5 separate regions of the Homo sapiens genome follow, and regions 1, 2, 4 and 5 are each reported to be linked to region 3. Evidence: microRNA targets listed by miRTarBase, many of them from high-throughput screens and not tested one by one. Region 3 holds a microRNA gene; each other region holds the end of a gene's coding sequence.

Evidence for each region. The annotated mature microRNA hsa-miR-6880-5p reads UGGUGGAGGAAGAGGGCAGCUC and lies in region 3 at 2,420-2,441, shown strand. An mRNA with a match to its seed (bases 2 to 7 or 8) in the 3' UTR can be bound and repressed. Matches are read on the target gene's strand: a 7mer-m8 pairs with bases 2 to 8, a 7mer-A1 pairs with bases 2 to 7 and ends in A, and an 8mer does both.
Region 1: the mRNA of CLIC4 is a reported target of hsa-miR-6880-5p. Seed matches in the 3' UTR shown: 8mer at 3,061-3,068.
Region 2: the mRNA of PGBD4 is a reported target of hsa-miR-6880-5p. Seed matches in the 3' UTR shown: 7mer-m8 at 673-679.
Region 4: the mRNA of C1orf174 is a reported target of hsa-miR-6880-5p. Seed matches in the 3' UTR shown: 7mer-m8 at 3,158-3,164.
Region 5: miRTarBase lists EDAR as a target of hsa-miR-6880-5p. Seed matches in the 3' UTR shown: 7mer-m8 at 2,561-2,567.

Annotation. Positions count from the first base shown.
Region 1 is chr1:24,840,252-24,844,251 of GRCh38, reverse strand. CLIC4 (chloride intracellular channel 4) reads right to left here. Exons shown (of 6, transcript NM_013943.3): 6 at 1-3,479. The coding sequence ends at 3,315. Among named protein-coding and RNA genes, the nearest start is that of MIR6731, 77 kb to the left of the region's middle.
Region 2 is chr15:34,104,056-34,108,055 of GRCh38, forward strand. PGBD4 (piggyBac transposable element derived 4) reads left to right here. Exons shown (of 1, transcript NM_152595.5): 1 at 1-4,000. The coding sequence ends at 234. Among named protein-coding and RNA genes, the nearest start is that of PGBD4, 4.0 kb to the left of the region's middle.
Region 3 is chr12:124,335,657-124,339,656 of GRCh38, reverse strand. MIR6880 (microRNA 6880) reads left to right here and starts at 2,415; the gene lies at 2,415-2,476. NCOR2 (nuclear receptor corepressor 2) reads left to right here. Exons shown (of 49, transcript NM_006312.6): 40 at 2,477-2,904. RefSeq lists a silencer at 3,023-3,203.
Region 4 is chr1:3,886,467-3,890,466 of GRCh38, forward strand. It overlaps C1orf174 (chromosome 1 open reading frame 174), which reads right to left. Exons shown (of 4, transcript NM_207356.3): 4 at 2,667-3,607. The coding sequence ends at 3,494. Among named protein-coding and RNA genes, the nearest start is that of C1orf174, 12 kb to the right of the region's middle.
Region 5 is chr2:108,893,377-108,897,376 of GRCh38, reverse strand. EDAR (ectodysplasin A receptor) reads left to right here. Exons shown (of 12, transcript NM_022336.4): 12 at 148-2,906. The coding sequence ends at 470. It also overlaps a transcript of RANBP2 not described here. Among named protein-coding and RNA genes, the nearest start is that of EDAR, 94 kb to the left of the region's middle.

The sequences.
Region 1 (4,000 bases), not on the chromosome of region 3:
TTTATTTTTTAATACAATAGCTGCCAGCAATATACTGGTGCTGATGTTCCAAAGATAAAAGAAAATACATGCATTCTATAATAAGCTTTCATTTGCCTGTTCAAGAAATTATAAAGAAAATACTCCAATTCTGTTCAACATTACGGCTTGAGGAGTTGAAATTTTTCCATGATAAAAATATACTTTGTGTGGCCCAAACCTTGACTATTTATAAAGGATGGAGTTTTTAAAAGCCCACATGTATCAATAATGGATGCTCCCCTCTCTTTGAATTAAATGCTTAAATTCAAATTAATGCAAGAAATTGGTGAATCATTAAATGATGAAATTTGTATCAAAATGTTCATGAAAAAATACATTTCTATTTCCTCTACATTTTTACTTTGTAGTTATTTTCTAAATGGGTTTAAGGGCACAGAAATAAATGCTATCTACATGCAACTCTGGAGAGATTCAAAACACAACAGAAGTTAACATGCCTAAATCCTAGAGTTGATCCATTTAGTGTAAGAATAAATGTCAGAAATCTCTTAATTGTATACAGATTGCTCAAGGATTTAAAGATAAATTGTGAAAGCCAAAATTACCAAGAAATAAAATCTTATTTGAATTTTATCACAAAAGTTTACAGTCCTAGTAAAAGACAACAGAACTGTATAGAATATCTGCATCTACATCAAAAAAGGGAAGTTTTATCAACTAGAATAGAGAGCTTTCCAACTGCTGAATACAAAAATTTCTCAGAATCTCTTGGAAAACAGATCCATTCAGACTCCAATCTCCTCACTGAAGTAAAACACAAAAGGTGTTTAAATGAAGGGGAATGGATGTTAGTTGTAAAAATAAAATCAGATTATTTCCATTATGGCAATTCATATACTGCATGAACTGTCTACCATGAAAACTTTATGTCCCAAATTTCTCAAGATGTTAAACTATGCTCTTTCCACAAACATACAATGGGGTTAAAGCATGTTGCTGGGTCGTCCTTTTTACTAGCTAGCTTTTGTCCATTTACCAATTTCCATTTCATTTGACTAACTTCCCTGATAAAGTGGTATCTGTGTTTCTACAGAGAAAAATAATTCTGTCTTCATCAAAATCACAATAGACATGCCTTCCTAGAACATTTAGAGGGATGGCCAGGTGTAATCACTGGTTTAATAAAAACAGGAGAATATCCAAAATGAAAATATTTGAGTTTCAAAATGAATTTTCATCACTGTATTCTGAAGAATGTAGTTCTTTCCTCTTGTTAGCCCTCCACCTCGCACCACTCAGTCCACCATTCACTGGAAAGAACAAACCTCACTGCTCTTGAATCTTTTTTATACTTTAAGCTATGAGGCAAGGTTCAGAATCACCAGAATGAATCCCAAGTTGCCACTATTTAAAAAGTAGGTGAAGAATGATAATGCCTGCCTGTGTACTGGTGCAGATGGGACATTTTCACCCACTAAAACCACTGCAAAATAATTTCTCAATAGATAACTGAATAGTGCATCTTCCTTGAACCAGATAAATCATACAATATTTAATTACCAAAAAAAAACCAAGCGGGTACTCAAACTTTTGATAAGCAATAAAGAGTTCTAAGAAAGGTAAGGCAAAGAATCTTCCTGAGCCAAATGGATACAACATGGAGATTTTCTTATCTTTCATACTAAGCTAATTAATGATAGGCTCAAAAAATGCAGTATACTTATAAAAAGCCGCTTTCATAAAGCCAGTGCTTACTAAATGTTAGCATATCAAAGTGGGAGAAACACTGCCATTTTAAAGCAATAAACTTAAAATTTCAAGAAACAGCCTATGAGAAATAGCACTTCCTATACAAATTAGGTATAAAAAAATTACCAAAAATGTATTATAGTCACAATCACAGTCTTTGGAGTAGTACGTAGAAAGTCTGGTTTTGCTTTTGTCTTTTAAAAAAGAGTAAATACATAGCAAAGTTTTATTTTCAGCAAGTTCATCCTCCTGTTAGAACACAAATAATTCCTGGTTTAGGGCTTCAATTAAAAAAAACCCCGAAAAACAAAACAAAAACATGCAGAGTGCTATTCCTCAACATGGCTGTTGGAAAATTTAACTCCAGGAAGTGCAATGAGTGAGATCAGGCAAAACTACAGTAAATACACACTCACCATAACTATAACTTAGTCCCAAAGGAATGAACAATCCTCTATACAAGGTAAATGGGGTGAAATGAGAAAATTGGTGACCTGTGTTTTATCTTTCTTTTATATAGGATGGATAACGCATTCTTTAGGTCATCTACATTAAATGTACTTTAGAAACAAAAATTTACTTGATATTTTGACAAACCCACCCTTCATTCCTTAGGTTAATTTCTGTGTTAATTTTTACATTACTAATCATTGTACTGCTATAGCTAAGTCAACTAAAAATCAGTTATGTAGTGTTGCTCAACAGATGTACAAATAGCAAGCTCTATGATTACGTAAAAACAAGCTTTTTAAAATAAAGAATGCAATAAAGTTCCAAATGAATGGCACAGGGCAAAACACATATAACAAACGTATTTAGACAGAGTATCAGGTGCCCATCAGTTTCTCTTCTAAAGATAAAATGCTTGAGGAAGGTCTTGAGAAAACCCTCACTCCCTCTAAACTTTTAGCTTCTACATGGTGTCAGATGTTACAATTGGTATGAAGGATAAATGCTTTTAGGCAAAAGTAAAAATCTATCTACAAAGCAATATAGCAAAATCTGTAGTGACTTTTGTAGAAAGCTCTCTTCTCTGGTGGTAATATTCGTTAGTACATATCCAGGATAGACTAAATTGAAACAATATTTCTGATACAGTAGCAATCCTTTCATATACTCTTACTAAATATTACAAAATTCCAAAAAATACATAAATATTTCTTGTACCATGCATTATGCACCAGTTTGGGGCTGCCTGATAAAGTCGTGGCTACTATTTTTAACAATTAAACATTGCACCTCAAAAGTTCTGCCATCTATACACAGTGAATGGACACAATGGTGAGGGCTCCTGAGAGATGGCAAGCTACCTCTAAAGTGAAAAGTTTGTGGTGGAGTGTCTCCAAATTAAAGAGAGGGGAACCCGGGTAGGGGAGGTAGCCAGGGTAAAGGATTTTAAAATAATACTGCTTAGGAGTGTATATTTTAAGATAACTACTATACCTTGTCTATCCTTGATCCTAATCTTCAATAACTGCATGTTCGTGCAAAATACAATTTCTGCTCTACAGGAAGGAGTAGCCTGTTAGGAAAAGCGTATTCTTAGGGGAAGACATGAAGACATCTCTTTTACAAACGCGATTTTACTTGGTGAGTCTTTTGGCTACATCACTATATGCTATTTCAACCTCCTTATCACTGGGACAGGTATTGGTGAACTCGTCCCTACTGTATGCATTAGTTAGGTATCTCCAGATGCCAGTCATTTCTTTTGGAATATCAAAGTTGCGATATTTTTTGGCCACCACCTGAAATACAAAGAGATCAAAAGTTAACAGACTTATTTCCACGTCTTGTAAACTAGACATATCTCTGATTTTGGAGCAAATAATTAATGCTCTAAATCTTTGAGAACTGCTTCTATATGAAAAAAAGTCCATCACCATCATTCTAACCAGAGTTTTAAATAATGACCAAGACTGCAAGCTACACCAGGGATTTAGAAGTGTGACAGTGACTGCAAATAACTGCCTTGGACATCCAGAAAGACAGCCAAGTATAATCACTGGAAAATACTTCACAACACACATATGCTATTTTAGATCTGTTTTTGTTATCTTAGGTCTTTATTTACAACTAGCGCTTATTATTATTCTATTTAACAATGTGCCCAGCCCAGTGTCTCATATAATAAATGCTCAATACTTTTTGCCTTCAATAGAGAAAGCAAGGTGTGATCACAGAACAGAATTTGATAACATAAGTCAGTGTGGCAAACTCCAATTCAAAGTCACGCATTATATCTTTGAATTTGTATGCAGTCACAGAA
Region 2 (4,000 bases), not on the chromosome of region 3:
CCTTGCTCCGATGATGTCACACCTCTTCGTCTGTCTGGAAGACATTTCCCCAAGAGCATACCAGCAACGTCCGGGAAACAGAATCCAACTGGTCGCTGCAAAATTTGCTGCTCCCAATACGACAAGGATGGCAAGAAGATCCGGAAAGAAACGCGCTATTTTTGTGCCGAATGTGATGTTCCGCTTTGTGTTGTTCCGTGCTTTGAAATTTACCACACGAAAAAAAATTATTAAATACCGATCATCATACACATCTGTTCCATTAGGATTAGAGACAAGTTCTGTTTAGAAATAACTCCAAGATTGGGAGGCCGACCTGGGTGGATCACCTGAGATCAGGAATTCAAGACCAGCCTGGCCAACATGGTGAAACCCTGTCTCTACTAAAAATACAACAATTAGCTGGATGTGGTGGCACATGCCTGTAATCCAAGCTACTTGGGAGGCTGAGGCAGGAGAATTGCTTGAACCCATGAGGCGGAGGTTGCAGTGAGCTGAGATCACACCACTGCACTCCAGCCTGGGTGACATAGCGAGACTCCATCTCAAAAAAAAGAAATAACTCCAAGAACAGTTTTGTTGTTTTTGTTTTGTTTTGTTTTGTTTTGAGACGGAGTTTCACTCTTGTTGCCCAGGCTGGAGTGCAATGGCATGATATTGGCTCACTGTAACCTCCACCTCCCAGGTTCAAGCGATTCTCGTGCCTCAGCCTCCCTAGTAGCTGGGATTACAGGCATGTGCCACCACACCCACCTAATTTTGCATTTTTAGTAGAGACTGGGTTTATCCATGTTGGTCAGGCTAGTCTTGACCTCCCGACCTCAGGTGATCCGCCTATCTGGGCCTCACAAAGTCCTGGGATTATAGGCATGAGCCACTGCGCCTAGCACCAAGAACAGTTTTTATATTTTATTTTCACATTGAAAATCAGTCAGATTTGCTTCAGCCTCAAAGAGGGTGTTTATGTAAAACTAAATGAGTGCAGGCAGCGAGCTACACTTTTTTTTTTCCTAAATGGAAAATGGGAAGGAGATACTGTCTCTGAACAAAAATAGCTGGAAAAACACATAACTGTTAACTAAGGGTTGCCTCTAGTGAAAAGGATTGGAAGACAATTTATCTGATGCTACACTATTCTTCCTGTTGTGATTGTTTTACTGTGAACATAACAAGGTTGTATTGGGGAGGAGGGCAGGGGTTGATTGCTGCCAATGTTGATTGCTGAGGCCTTAGCCAAGATTTCAGGCATCATTTGCTCCAGTCCTTTCATTTTCTTTATGGTGGAAAGTGAAGTGACTTGCCCAAGATCTTTGTTGGCCCTAAACATCGCTGTCTCTGCTACAGATTCCTATTGAGAGCAATGCATGTTTTAGCCTTGTGCACTCTTAGAGTCAGCATCATGGGAAAGAGTAACAGCAATTGAAAAAAGAGATTCAAGAGCCAAGTACTCAGCCCTGGCAGGGGATGGGGACATGATGCCCAGAGCCACCCCTATACTCCAGTCTCCCTGGCATCAGCTACTGCAGTACTGGGGTACTTGCCTTCATCTTTTTTCTGAAGATAGTTACTTCTTCATATTTGATCATCGGAAGGAGCAGCATTGCTCAGAAACACACACACACACACACACACTTGACTTTCTTGTCTGCCAAATAAATTTCTTATTTGCTAGGGAACTGGTAATCTAGGCTCAAGAAGTGTGTGGAGAAGGTTTATTTTCATTCTTTTTACTTTAAAATATGCCTTAGTTTTTGAATAGATAAGACATTCAAGTGTCAGAAAGTAAAAGTCAGTTCAGGACTGAGAAAGGAAAGATCAGTGCTGATTTTAATCAGACTGTAATGTACCAACTAGATACAGACAGGGCCAGTGGCAAGGCCATCAGAAAACTTCTTCCCAAGGCCACACCACACCTGCAAAATGCCTAACAACCTTCTTCTTTTCAGTGATTACCACTTTCTTACCAATGACTTCGCTTTGTTCCTCGTGCCTCTGAACAGACTGCTGAGATACCCAATCAAGAGCCAATCCTTGCTTCCCTAGACTCTCCTCAATCATTCAACAGAAGCCCAAATCTTGTAAAAGTTCCTTTCTGGGCCGGGCACAGTGGCTCACGCCTGTAATCCCAGCACTTTGGAAGGCCGAGATGGGCGAATCACAAGGTCAGGAGTTTGAGACTAGCCTGGCCAACATGGTGAAACCCTGTCTCTACTAAAAATACAAAAAAAAATTAGCTGGGCATAGTGGTGGGTGCCTGTAATCCCAGCTACTTGGGAGGCTGAGACAGGAGAATCACTTGAACCCGGGAGGCAGAGGTTGCAGTGAGCCAAGATCGCACCACTGCACTCCAGCCCTGGCGACAGAGTGAGACTCCATCTCAAAAAATAAAAAAGTTTCCTTCTGTTCCCTCTTACTGTTATATCCTTGGTTTCTCTGGTGTGGGGTCTTCCTTACAGCAGCAAGCTCATAAACTTAACTTGACCGCAGGTGTGTTCCTTGGTGGTCTTTATCTGATAGACTTTGTCACATGGTACAATATTCAAAAGGCACATGGTACAATATTCAAAAGGCACATGGTACAATATTCAAAAGGTATGAGTATACAAAAAAAATCTCCCACCTACTTCTCTCCCTAGTCACCCAATTCTCAAGAGGCAATCACTGTTGCCATTTTCCTGAGTATTCTTCCACAGATAGTCAACTATCTACAGAAAAATATATACATTAAAAATAAGGCCAGGCACAGTGGCATGCCTGTAGTCCCAGCTACTCAGAAGGTTGAAGCAGGAGGATCACTTGAGGCCAGGAGGGCCAGGAATTTGAAGCTGTAGTGTGCTATGATAGCAGGCCTGTGAATAGCCATTGCACTCCATCCTGGGCAACATAGCCAGACCCTGTCTCTAAAAAAAAAAAAAAAAAAAAAAAAGACAAAAAAACAAATCCATATATACATATATATGTATATATATAGTATGCTACCAGTTGTGTGAAAAAAGGGGCAAAATATATATTTATTTAACTTATATACAAATAACATTCTAGAAATAAATTGTTTAATATAAAATACACTAATATATAATAATGTATTACCTAACATATGATTATATATAACTATAATGTGTACTGTTTTACATACATATTTCCAAAGTATACTATAAATGCACTTCCGCACTTTGCTCTTTTTACTAAATATATCTTGGAAATCATCCTTTATTCGTACATAAAAAGCTTCATAGTTCCTTTTTATGGCTGCAAAATGTTCCAGCTTATGGATGGACTGATTCTCTATCGAGCAACATTAAGATTGTGTCCTATTTTACTATTCCTAATTTTGCTGAAGTGAATTTCTTTTGCCATGTGATTTCCACAGGTGTATATATGTAGCGTAATTAGTACTAGTAGAAAGTAGAATTGCTAGATCAAAGAGTATGTGCCTTTGTAATTTTGATGATATTGTGAAATCTTCTTCCACAGAAGTTGTTGCAACTTTCACTCTCACCAGCAATGTGTAAGATAACTTGCTTCTTCATACCCTCACCAACAATGAGCTATCAAATGTTATTTTTGCCAAGCAAATAAATTAAAAGTGATATCTCAGTTTTTGTTTGTTTGTTTGTTTTTTGAGACAGAGTTTCACTCTTTGTTGCCCAGGCTGGAGTGCAGTGGCGTGATCTCGGCTCACTGTAACCTCCGCCTCCCAGGTTCAAACGATTCTCCTGTCTCACCCTCCCGAGTAGCTGGGATTACAGGCACCTGCCACCACACCCAGTTAATTTTTGTATTTTTAGTAGAGACAGGGTTTCACCATGTTGGCTAGGCTGACCTCGAACTCCTAACCTCAGGTGATCCACCTGCCTCGGCCTCCCAAAGTGCTGGAATTACAGGCGTGAGCCACCATGCCTGGCTCTTCTTGCTTGTTTGTTTTGAGACAGAGTCTTGCTCTGTCAGCCAGGCTGGAGTGCAGTGGCACGATATTGGCTCACTGCAACCTCTGTCTCCC
Region 3 (4,000 bases):
TAGATGGCCGGGTTAGCCAGATAGGTGGTTGGGTTAGGTGGGTAGGTGGGTCAGTGGGAGGATAGATGGTTAGGTTAGCTGGGTGGGTGGATGGATGGATGGGTGGGTGATAGGGTTAGGTAGGTAGGTGGGTGGGTGAGAGGATAGATAGCTGGGTTAGCTGGGTGGATGGATGGGTGGGTGGTCACGTTAGGTAGGTAAGTAGATGGGCAAAAGGATAGATGGCCAAGTTAGCTGTGTGGGTGGGTGGGTGGTAGGTAGGTAGGTAGGTAGGTAGGTAGGTAGGTAGGTGGCTAAGAGGATAAATGACTGAGTTAGCCAGATGGATGGATGGATGGATGGATGGATGGATGGATGGGCAGGTGGTTGGGTTAGGTAGGTAGGTGGGTGGGTGAGAGGATAGATGACTGGCTTAGCTGGGTGGGTGGGTGGGTGGGTGGTAGGTAGATCGGGTTAGGTAGGTAGATGGGTGGGTAAGAGGATAGATGGCTGGGTTAACTGGGTGGATGGATGGATGGGTGGGTGGGTGGTTGGGTTAAGTAGGTAGGTAGGTGGGAGGAAGGATAGATGGCCAGATTAGCCATGTGGATGGATGGATGGGTGGGTGGCTGAGTTAGGTAGGTAGGTGGGTGGGTGAGAGTATAGACGCTGGCTTAGCTGGGTGGGTGGATGGGTGGGTGGTAGGGTTAGGGAGGTAGGTGGGTGGGTGAGAGTATAGATGGCTGGGTTAGCTGGGTGGGTGGGTGGATGGGTGGGTGGTAGGGTTAGGTGGATGATGGAATGGATGGTTGGATGAGTAATTGTGGGGATGAGTGGATGGAGGCCCCAGTGGATGGACGATGAGTTGGGCGGTGGGATGAGTAGATGGGGAGGTTGTTTGGTTTGAGAATAGAATCTGTGGAGAGGGAGAGACTGAATGGGGACTGTGAGGAAAGACTTTCCCGGTCCCCCACATTTAGCAAGGCCAGCAAGGAAAAGAGGTGTCCCTCTTGCCTGGACAAAGTCCCAAGTTTCTCTGAGATGGGAGAGGCCCCTGAGTGCCCTCTGGTGACACACACTCCAGAGACTGTGGGCAGAGCTGCTTCACCAGGGGGGTGGGGTCACACCTCAACACCCTTCCCTGCCCGGAACCTTTTTTTTTTTTTTTTTTTGATGGAGTTGTACTCTGTCGCCCAGGCTGGAGTGCAGTGGTACGATCTCTGCTTACTGCAACCTCCACCTCCTGGGTTCAAGTGATTCTCCTGCCTCAGCCTCCCAAGTAGCTGCAGTTACAGGCACGTGCAACCACACCCGGCTAATTTTTATATTTTTAGTAGAAATGCGGTTTCACCACGTTGGCCAGGCTGGTCTCAAACTTCTGACCTCAAGTGATCTGCCTGCCTCAGCCTCCCAAAGTGCCGGGATTACAGGCGTGCGCCACCGCACTCAGCCTCCAGGACCTATTTAGAGGCAACTTACTCCTCCAAAATGAATTTTCATTCAAAAAAGTACTTGTGCCCCAACTTGCCGCTTGGATGCCTGAAGTCATACCTCCCCTAATCATTATTTCAATTATGAAAAATGGCATCGTTTCCCAAAAGCAGTGGCGACTTTGTCACCCCTGACTCAGACCCAGCAGGTGCATGAAGCACTAATCCCTGGCTGTGGGGAGCAGGGTTCCGCACACAGGCTCTGTGGGATATGCCCGTGACAGCCGATTCAAAAATATAATGGAGAAAACGAGTGCCTGCCCACTGCCCGCTCATGAATGAGGCTCTGGGAGGTAGAGTTAGCGAGAGATGGGGGTGCCCCCATGGAAACGCAGGGCTCCGGGAAGGCCACGTGGGTGGAGCAGCCGGCTCCTGTTCCAGCCCCAGCCCTGTGCAGGGGCAGCTGTGCCCCAGCTTCTCACTCACAGAGCTGGGAACAGCAGCTTTCTCTGTTCTCAACGCCCACCCTGGCCGCCCCCTGGCATCCTTCCCCTTGCTCTCTCACTCCTCACGTGGCTTTTTTAGCTCTTCGGGTATCCTGAGCAGGCCCAGCTCCCTCATGTGCCCCCTCCCTGAAGACCTCCTAGCCCTGCCTCAGCTTCCTTGCCGTTCTCTCCTGGTACCTCATTGACTACCTCCACACAGTTACCAGGCTCTGTAGAGCTTGGGATATCTGTTAATGTGATCGTAGTCTGTTTTCTGAATTAGATGGTAAGATGCTTGCATCCGTTTTATGACCGCTGTATTCACAGTGTCTAGAACAGTGCCTGGCACCTAGTAGCTGCTTAATCAGAAGTTTTGGAATGATGCAAGGAATGAATGAACGAATGAGTGGGATGGGTCAAACCATGACGCACAGAGTCTGGCAGGTTACAGTCAGGAGGGCAGTTTCACTCTGGGAGCAGCAGGGGATGTGGATTTATCCCAGGGCAATGGGGACTCATCGAGGGTGGTGGAGGAAGAGGGCAGCTCCCATGACTGCCTGACCGCCTTCTCTCCTCCCCCAGGTCCACCTCCACCTCCTCACCCGTTCGCCCGGCTGCCACATTCCCACCTGCCACCCACTGCCCACTGGGCGGCACCCTCGATGGGGTCTACCCTACCCTCATGGAGCCCGTCTTGCTGCCCAAGGAGGCCCCCCGGGTCGCCCGGCCAGAGCGGCCCCGAGCAGACACCGGCCATGCCTTCCTCGCCAAGCCCCCAGCCCGCTCCGGGCTGGAGCCCGCCTCCTCCCCCAGCAAGGGCTCGGAGCCCCGGCCCCTAGTGCCTCCTGTCTCTGGCCACGCCACCATCGCCCGCACCCCTGCGAAGAACCTCGCACCTCACCACGCCAGCCCGGACCCGCCGGCGCCACCTGCCTCGGCCTCGGACCCGCACCGGGAAAAGACTCAAAGTAAACCCTTTTCCATCCAGGAACTGGAACTCCGTTCTCTGGGTAAGACCACCCTGACAGCGGCCACCTTCATAGACGCGATTATCATGCGTCAAATTGCTCACGATAAAGGGGCGCGAGAAGGAGGTGCGCTGGCCAACGGCTCCCCTCGCGATGGTAAGACTTCCGGCCCGCACCCACCCCGTCTCGTGGTCCAAAGATATTTTCAGATCTCTGCTTTTTACTTTGGCCCCCGTTTTTTTTGTTGTTGGTTTTGGTATTTTGTTTTGAAGCCCATCCGTCCTCGCCGGTTTGCACGCGCTGACGACTACTCCGGCCGCGCCTGCCCCTCTGGTTTGGGGGCGCTCATCATTTGCACATCATTTTACCATGGTTTTTTTTTTTTGGATTTTTGCTTTTTTTTCTTTAATGAATGGATCTGTGATTCTGACTTCGACTGCGCCCCCATCTCCCTCTTTGCGCCTGTGTCCAGGGAGCAGGGATGGGGCTGCGGGAGGGCTCGGGCCTACGCCCCCACCTGCCGGCTGCCTGGATGCTGTCGGACTGGGGGAAGTGGAGGCAGGCGGTGCAAGGAGAAGCTGAGGCGGGGCAGGGACCTGCGCTGTCGAGGAGGAGCTGGGTCTGGCTCTTGCATCTTGCCCTGTCCCCAGCCCCTGTACCCCAGAAAAAGGGGAGCCCTCTGCCTCTGGACCCCTGCCTTGGCCCTAGTTCATGGCTCCTCTCTGTTGGACTGGGATGGCCGAGGCTATAGCCCAGGCGGGGCCCCGGGGACCCAGGGTCACTCCCAGCCACACCCCCACTTCTCACTCCGCCCCACACACTCCTTCCCCAGAGACCCATGCTGCCCCCATCTCACGCTGGCCTCGCCCGGCCTCCACCACCTGAACCCATCTCTGTCCCTTCTTGCCTAATCTCTCTCTGTGTCTCCCTCTCTGTCTGTCTCTGTCCCGGGCTCTGCATCTCTCTCCACCTCTCCCTTGGCCTCCCTGTCTCTCCCCAACACCCCTCTCTGCCTTACTGTCTTTGGGAGCCCAAACCCTACCCCTAGCTTGGGTTCCCCTTGACCCCCCCGGGGTCCCAGCCAGCTGGGAGGGCAGCCCTGCCCCTCGGGCTCCGAAACCCTGGGCCCGGTGCCTGA
Region 4 (4,000 bases), not on the chromosome of region 3:
CCAGGCTTGTTGAGCTGTGTGTGAAGCGTGCAAGGCTCTCCTGGCTGTGACATGGTGTTTTGGTTGTTTTTTTCTTGCTTCCGGGCCCTTGGCTGGGCAAGGTGCTGGTGATTGTTACAAAGAGCTATCACCTATCAGGAGTTATGTCACCCAGAGTCTCAGGTTAGAAAAGGTGGCTGAACCTCTGCAACAAAGAAAGAGTGTGTGGTCTGTGCATTCTCACACAAGAGGGAGAAAAGTTCTAGGAGCTAAGAGTGTGGAATTCTGTGATCTGTGGGGCTGAGGGTCACCTGCTGGGAGGTCCTGGCATCAGTAAGAAGCTTCCAAGGGAAGAGCCCAGTAAAGGCCTGCAGACGGCCTCAACCAGCTCAGTGCCAGGCTCCATCCAGACGGCAAAGCTGCAGCAAACACGACCACAAGACATGGCCCTCCTGCAGCTCAGGAGGAAGCGCTGTAGGCAGAGCCACAGTCGGCCTGCGCCAGGGGGTGTGCGTGAGCACAAATACACTCTTTTGTATCTTATCTTTTATTCCCTCATTCGCCCCCCTTTGGTCAGTCCCCCTAGGTCTGTGCAGGCTACAGTCCACATGTAGACTAGGAAGTGTTTCTACCTGGCAGTGCTTGTTAGTGCAGGTTAACCACTGTGAGTGAATAGGGGTGGCCCCAGGAACACACACACTTTCCACTCTGCGTGCTGCGTCTCCTCTGCAGGTGTATCATCATTTGGGACAGTGCACCTCACTGAAGTCTGCTTAGAGGATGGCAAAATTCTCGTCACCACCAGGATAGGTGCTGTCATTTAAAAAAAAAATTTTTTTTTAATTTTTTGAGACGGAGTCTCGCTCTGTCACCCAGGCTGGAGTGCAGTGGCGTGATCTTGGCTCACTACAAGCTCCGCCTCCTGGGTTCACGCCATTCTCCTGCCTCAGCCTCCCGAGTAGCTGGGACTACAGGCACCTGCCACCACGCCCGGTTAATTTTTTTTTTTGTGTTTTTAGTAGAGAGGGGGTTTCACCAGGTTAGCCAGGATGGTCTCGATCTCCTGACCTCATGATCCGCCCGCCTCAGCCTCCCAAAGTGCTGGCATTACAGGCGTGAGCCACCGCGCCCGGCCAGGTGCTGTTATTAATAGTTATTCATGCAGCAATCTGAAGTTGTACTTTATTTATTTATTTATTTTAGAGGCAGAGTCTCGCTCTGTTGCCCAGGCTGGAGTGCAATGGCGTGATCCCAGCTCACTGCAACCTCGGCTTCCTGGGTTCAAGTGATTCCCCTGCCTTAGCCTCCCAGGTAGCTGGGATTATAGGCGCCCACCACCACGCCCGGCTAATTTTTGTATTTTTAGTGGAGACGGGGTTTCACTATGTTGGCCAGGCTGTTCTCGAACTCCTGACCTCAGGTGATCTGCCTGCCTCAGCCTCTGAAAGTGTTGGGATTATAGGCGTGAGCCACTGTGCCCGGCAAAAGTTGTAAATTATTTTCCCTGGCTACCATAAAATGACTTTATAAGCCACATTTCCAAATTATAGTTTGTTGATCAATAAATCACAAAGTTATTCAAAACAGGTGAAAGTCACAGCTCATGAGAAAAGGATCACATTAGAAGTGGAGAATGACACCTTCAGGGAGGGCAGTGTTTGAATAGTAAAGAGCGGAAACACTTCTTACAGGGCACTTCAACTATATTTTGCTTCCAATTTATCTGTTATAGAAAATCCTTCCTGTGCTTCATAGGACATTTTCACAGGGTTAATTCTAGCTGCTCTTGTAATTAAACCAGAAACATATAAAAGCTCAAAACCAGCAAGACTCACTTGTTCCCTCATGAAAAGGCCCAGTCTTCCCACATCGCAGGCAACTTCTCCTTGTCCTTGGTCACCCGGGGACCCCAGCTTGCTCCTGGTTGGTCCACTCAGCTTCTATGTGCAGGTGGCGGCAGGAAGAGGCCATGGAGAGAGCACTCCCAATGGCTTGTCTCCACTGCCCTGGGCGAGAACACACGGTGAGGTGCTCCCTGACGCCGCTGGGGCTGGGGAATGCAGTTCTCGTCAGGCAGCTGCACACGGACCTCTCTATGGCCTGGAGGAGAGCATGGCCTTCGCTGGATGGCTGACCGTCTCCACCACACAGGATAGGAAAGCCCGACACTTCTGCAGCAAAGTGGGAGTGGAAGTACACTCGAGAGAAGGGAAGAGGCCCTGTCCCGGGGGCCTCGGTGGTTAACAGGTCTAAAAGATGGACCCGTGCCGGGCGTAGTGGCTCACGCCTGTCATCCCAGCACTGTGGGAGGCCGAGGCAGGCGGATCACCTGAGGCCAGGAGTTCGAGACCAGCCTGGCCAACATGGTGAAACCCCGTCTCTACTAAAAATACGAAAAATTAGCCAGGCATGGTGGTACATGCCTGTAATCCCAGCTACCTGGGAGGCTGAGCCTGGAGAATCGCTTGAACCCGGGAGGCAGAGGTTGCAGTGAGCCGAGATTGTGCCACTGCACTCCAGCCTGGGCAACAGAGTGAGACTCAGTCTCAGAAAAAAAAAAAAAAAAGATGGACCCAGCCTTATGAGCATTTGGGAGCATGAGACTGAGGCAGGATGTGTTTCCTCTACTCGGCTCCCAGGCATTGAGAAAGGAATCCGGTTTTACGAACATACGACTGCTTTCAAAATATTTTCAAAATATATTTTATTTCTTTCTTACATGTATTTTGCAAAATTTCCAAGGTAAACATTAGCTCCACATACAGAAATAAAAGAGTTCTTTAAGAACTAGCATTGAATTCATCACAAGAATCATCAAATTATGATAATGGAAAACAAACTTGCCTATGACCAAAGCTACTGAGCTGAAGTGAAGAGCTGTCTTTACAAAGATCCCTCTCATTAAGCCCACTGCCCTGCAGCTGACTCAAGCCATCATCATGTATGTACGTGTATAAGAAAGGACACTGGCCGGGCATGGTGGCTCGCGCCTGTAATCCCAGCACTTTGGGAGGCTGAGGCGGGCGTATCACGAGGTCAGGAGTTTGAGACCAGCCTGGCCAACGTGGAGAAACCCCCGTGTCTACTAATAATACAAAAACTAGCTGGGTGTGGTGGTGTATGCCTGTAATCCCAGCTACTCAGGAGGCTGAGGCAGGAGAATCACTTGAACCCAGGAGGTGGAGGTTGCAGTGAGCCGAGATTGCGCCATTGCACTCCAGCCTGGGCGACAAGAGAGAAACTCTGTCTCCAAGGAAAAAAAAAAAAAAAAAAAAAGAAAGGACATTGGCACAGTACAGCAGCTTTGCAACCTCAAAGATGGTTTGAGTTTTAGTTCCCATGAGTACATCCTCCACAGGTATTGGGTGCTTTGCACTATTGACTTAGATGGGTCAGTTCTGAAGTTTGATTAAGACATTCTCTTGGAGATACATTTTATATAAATCTTGTAATGTGCTAAATTGTCAAATTGTTAATGGTACTAAATACTCAAGGACATTATTTTGTATGGCCCCTACATTTCTGCATCATCGTCGTCGTCATCATCATCATCTTTGGCTCTGAAATGCATTTTTCTGAACTCTCGTCTGCTCATTGAAGGACAAGATGAAGACGCAGGTGGGAGGTCCTTAGTGGAGAAGAAAACATGACTTCAGTCATGAGCAATACATATCTGCACCCGCATTTGCAATGTGCCCCACCCAGCGGCTCTAGGGCTCGCAGAGCGCTCTTCCCTTTTAGACGTGTGAAAATGCCTGAGTCCCAGCACTCGCCTCTAGATGAGAACTTCCTCCCTACTGGGCTGATCGAGTAAAGAGAAGGAAAGGTGCTGGGTTCAAAACAAAAGAAATTAACAGCAAGCGCGGGGTGGATGTTCAAAAAAACCACAAACCTGATTTCATGGAAACACACCTTTCCCGAGAGCAGTGATTCTCAGCTCGGGAGATGCAGGGAGAGCCCCCAATTAGCCAACGGTTTCATTTTCTCCTCGTGGGTTAAAATGATTAGTTTATGTTTAATG
Region 5 (4,000 bases), not on the chromosome of region 3:
CATTTGTTTTAGGTGGCTTTCTGCATGTTTTATAATTTTAAAAAAATTTTTTTCAAATAATTTTTATTTCATTTAAATAATTTTTCAGTGTTGACCTTCTATTGACTGTGACTTGCAACATCTAACTGTGGCCATTGGTGTCTGTAGGTCTTAGCCCCACGGAGCTGCCATTTGATTGCCTCGAGAAGACTAGCCGAATGCTCAGCTCCACGTACAACTCTGAGAAGGCTGTTGTGAAAACGTGGCGCCACCTCGCCGAGAGCTTCGGCCTGAAGAGGGATGAGATTGGGGGCATGACAGACGGCATGCAACTCTTTGACCGCATCAGCACGGCAGGCTACAGCATCCCTGAGCTACTCACAAAACTGGTGCAGATTGAGCGGCTGGATGCTGTGGAGTCCTTGTGTGCAGACATACTGGAGTGGGCGGGGGTTGTGCCACCTGCCTCCCAGCCACATGCTGCATCCTGAAAAGCATGCCTGTGGGCTGTCCTCCCAGGACAAGCCAAGGAGCCAACGAGGGCTCTGGAGCTGTGAGTGGTGCCAAAAGACTGCCAAGAATCAAGGCTTTTGTGATATGTCACCGTATGCCTTAGGATGTTCAAGGAGCCAGACGAAATAAGGCCTGTCTTCCAATTTAACCAAAGATAAAGGACTAGAGCCGGGATACTTTCAGATGCTCGCCTGTACCTCACCAGGCAGAGTAAATATCTACTCACTCATACAGCCAGCCCACCAGCCCACCATTAACTCACTGAACAATGAGACAATGTTGAGGACTCAAATGAATCAAACCCCGTGGGAATGACAGAAGTGAAGAATCTGGTCCCTGTCTTTAAGGAGTTTGCACTCCAGTAGAAGACAGAAGGAACGTATGTTTACAAACCACTTCACTGGAAGACGTCAAACAAGCTGAATGAAGGGGCGCTTAGAAAACGTTAATAGAAGTTCTAAGCGGGAGATGACTCCCTACTGGGATGATGAAGGATGGCATCCTAGTGAAGAAGCAGCTCAAACATTTTGATAAAATGGCAACAAAATGCAGACACCCTGCTCCAGGTATTATTTCAGGTTTAGTACAAGTCTGTTAATACCCTATGTGGTTTCATTAGGATAACTTTTTACCTATCCTTGAGGTCATCCATATTCTTACAGGCCTTCCAGTCAATAATGGAAGAGCTCACTCTATACAAAACCAATATGCAAGGCATGTGTTTGTCCAAGCAATTGGATGTGTGCAGTAGCCAATTTCATTTACTGCATTACTCTTTGGCCTGGGAACCCTGTGGTCTGCACTACATGTGAATGGCCTTCCACTTCAGTCTTAGGCAGATTTGACCTTTTAGGGGCAGCAATGCTGAAGGACACAGCAATTTAAATTATAATGTGTCAGGCTGTGTTTTCACTTCAAACATGTATGAGTAGTCAGCTGTAATTAGAGAAATGATGACTTCCTAAGAGTTCAGCCACGCATAATTCTAGATTTCAAGAGCATCTAAGACTTGTGGATTAGCCTCATGGCATGAGAGTTTCAGACTCAGCCTTCTGAGCCAGTCAGGGAAAGTGGAGTTCTGCAGCGCAAATGAGAGCCTGGGCTTGATGTCGAGGGAGCTGGCTTCTAGTTGTGCCACCTTGGGCCTTGTCTTTTCCTCTCTCTGCCTCAGTTTCTCGTCTGCCAATGAGATGTTAGTTAGTGATTCTATAATTGGGGCAGGTAGGGTTCAGGTGAGCAAAAAGAAAGTGGAGCTATAGGAAATGCCAGGCCTTTGAGGTGCTCTATGGAAGTCAACACAGTGTGGTTTGTCCATTTAAATGGGAATAAAAACAGAAAAACTCAGACTTGGCATTTTCACAATAACTGCAATGGTTTGACATAACATTTATAGGCAGAAAGTTAATAAACTGGCATTGTTCTTGGCATATTATTGTACTATCCCTGTAACTGCCAAGAGCTCAGGAGCCAGGCTAGTGATCACACCAGGGGTTAGAGTTCACTGCTGAACTCCCTGATGGCAGGTCTGTGTTTATTACTACATTAAAACAAAGTCTCTGACTTATAAAGCGAGGTTGTAAAAATTACAAGTTGCATGACTGAAAAAATGCTTTAGGGGGAAAATCAGTCATATCTTTAACACCAACAAGCAATTTCCCACCAACGAATGTAGTACATACTGTGAGAGGATCATAATGAGGTCCTGAATATTTAATATCATCATTTACTGTGTCTGTTTGCTGCTGTTTTTCGAACCTATTTGGTTTACCCTGCAAGCTAAATACTCCACGGCAGAGCTTAATTATCCTTTTAATTCCTCTTTGAAATCCTGTGGTGCCCCCTTCCCCCTGCCTTGTGATGATGATGAGTGAGTCTCCCCTTAATTAGACTGCAAATGTCACTTGTGATGAGTGTGCCATTCCAGGATAACAGCTTGCACCCTCCTCAGAATGTTTTCAGCGAAAGAGTGGGGTGGCTGTTCTCTGCTCCTGGTGCTTTGGCCTCATTTCACACTATTAGAATTCTGGGGCTGTAAGGCCAGCCAGTGTCAGCTCATGTTCCATTGGCTCTCCACCTGCCATTTTTAGGGAGCTATTCCTTATATAGTTACAAATTCCCTTGTCATTTACTTATTTGGAAACATGGGATTTACTCTGACAAGCTTTAGCCTATGTTATGGGATTCAGAACAATGAGATCATAATAATTCTCACTGACCAAAGCTGGGACTCCATCCTGCCATTTTTGTGTGGAGATATTCATAATTCTGCAATACTTTAAAACATTTAGAAAACACCCCAGGGTAGGTCTGTGGCCCTTAGACAGTGAAGTCTTAATTGTCAATATTATTTTTGTCTAATTCTGTATATATATAACTTATTATATTTTATAATCTCAATAAACACATTAATAAGATTTATAGACTACCGTAATGTGAGCTCTCTTTGTATTTGGGGTGGTGGGTCGGGGGGTGAGTGGGGAAGGTTCTGATTGCTCTGTTCCTGGTTATTGCCCTATGTATGATGAGACTGTAGGATTGCAACCAGCTATAAACAAAGTGCCTAAAATGTTATGGCCTGGGACATTCACTAGGCAGAAGCAAACATTACAAAGAGATCATGTAAAAACCACCTGGAGCATTGCTTTCCAAGTTGCCATCATTAGCTCATAAGGCATTGTATCACTTATCTATTTCTGTGTAACAAACTGTCTTGTCTTAAAATTCAATGGCTTAAAGCAACAGTCATTTATTATCATAGCTCGGGGGTTAGTAGGGGGTCAGTCAGCTGACTTAGGTTGGGCTCAGTTGAATGTGGGTCAACTGGGGCCTCTGTCTGTTGGAATACCTTAACTGGGGCAGCTCTACTCCATCATCTCTGTCAACCTAGATAGATAACAGAGAGAGGCTCTCTAAAAGAAAGAAAATGATATGTATTGGGGAATAGGGCATTGCAATGGGAATACATGTGCCATAGTAAACTATGCGTGTTTTTGAAGAGGTAAAGGAAGACAATGGTTCTTAGAGGAAAATAAGGAGGATTACATAATTATTTTGAGACAATTATCCTTGGCTACAAGGATAATAAGGGTGGTGCCAGTCCAGGGTTGGACAGGGAGTTGCTGGGCAGAGGTCCTTGCAGGAGTCTTTGTGTGTGTTTAAGATTGTCATGGCCTTTGTGCAAGGTTTTCGTTTTTTCAGTCTTGTGATGGCTCTTGTTATCAGTGATTTATGCAGGGAGAACCCTTCTTTCCTGGCCTTCCATGACTCTATTTGTCAGTTTTGTTTTGTTTTTTAAGCACAAGTGACTCCTTTATAATTCTGACAACTTCCACATTTCCCCCATTTGATCAAGATCTTTATCAGAAAGCATCCCCAGTGAGTCATCCCATATTATTCCTTCGTGCCAGGATAGACCTGTCCTAGGTGGCTGGTCTGGTCTCACATTGGAGGGATTTGATGGTGACTAGGAGTCAGTGTCAAAACCCTTTAGCCATGTTTGAACAAATGG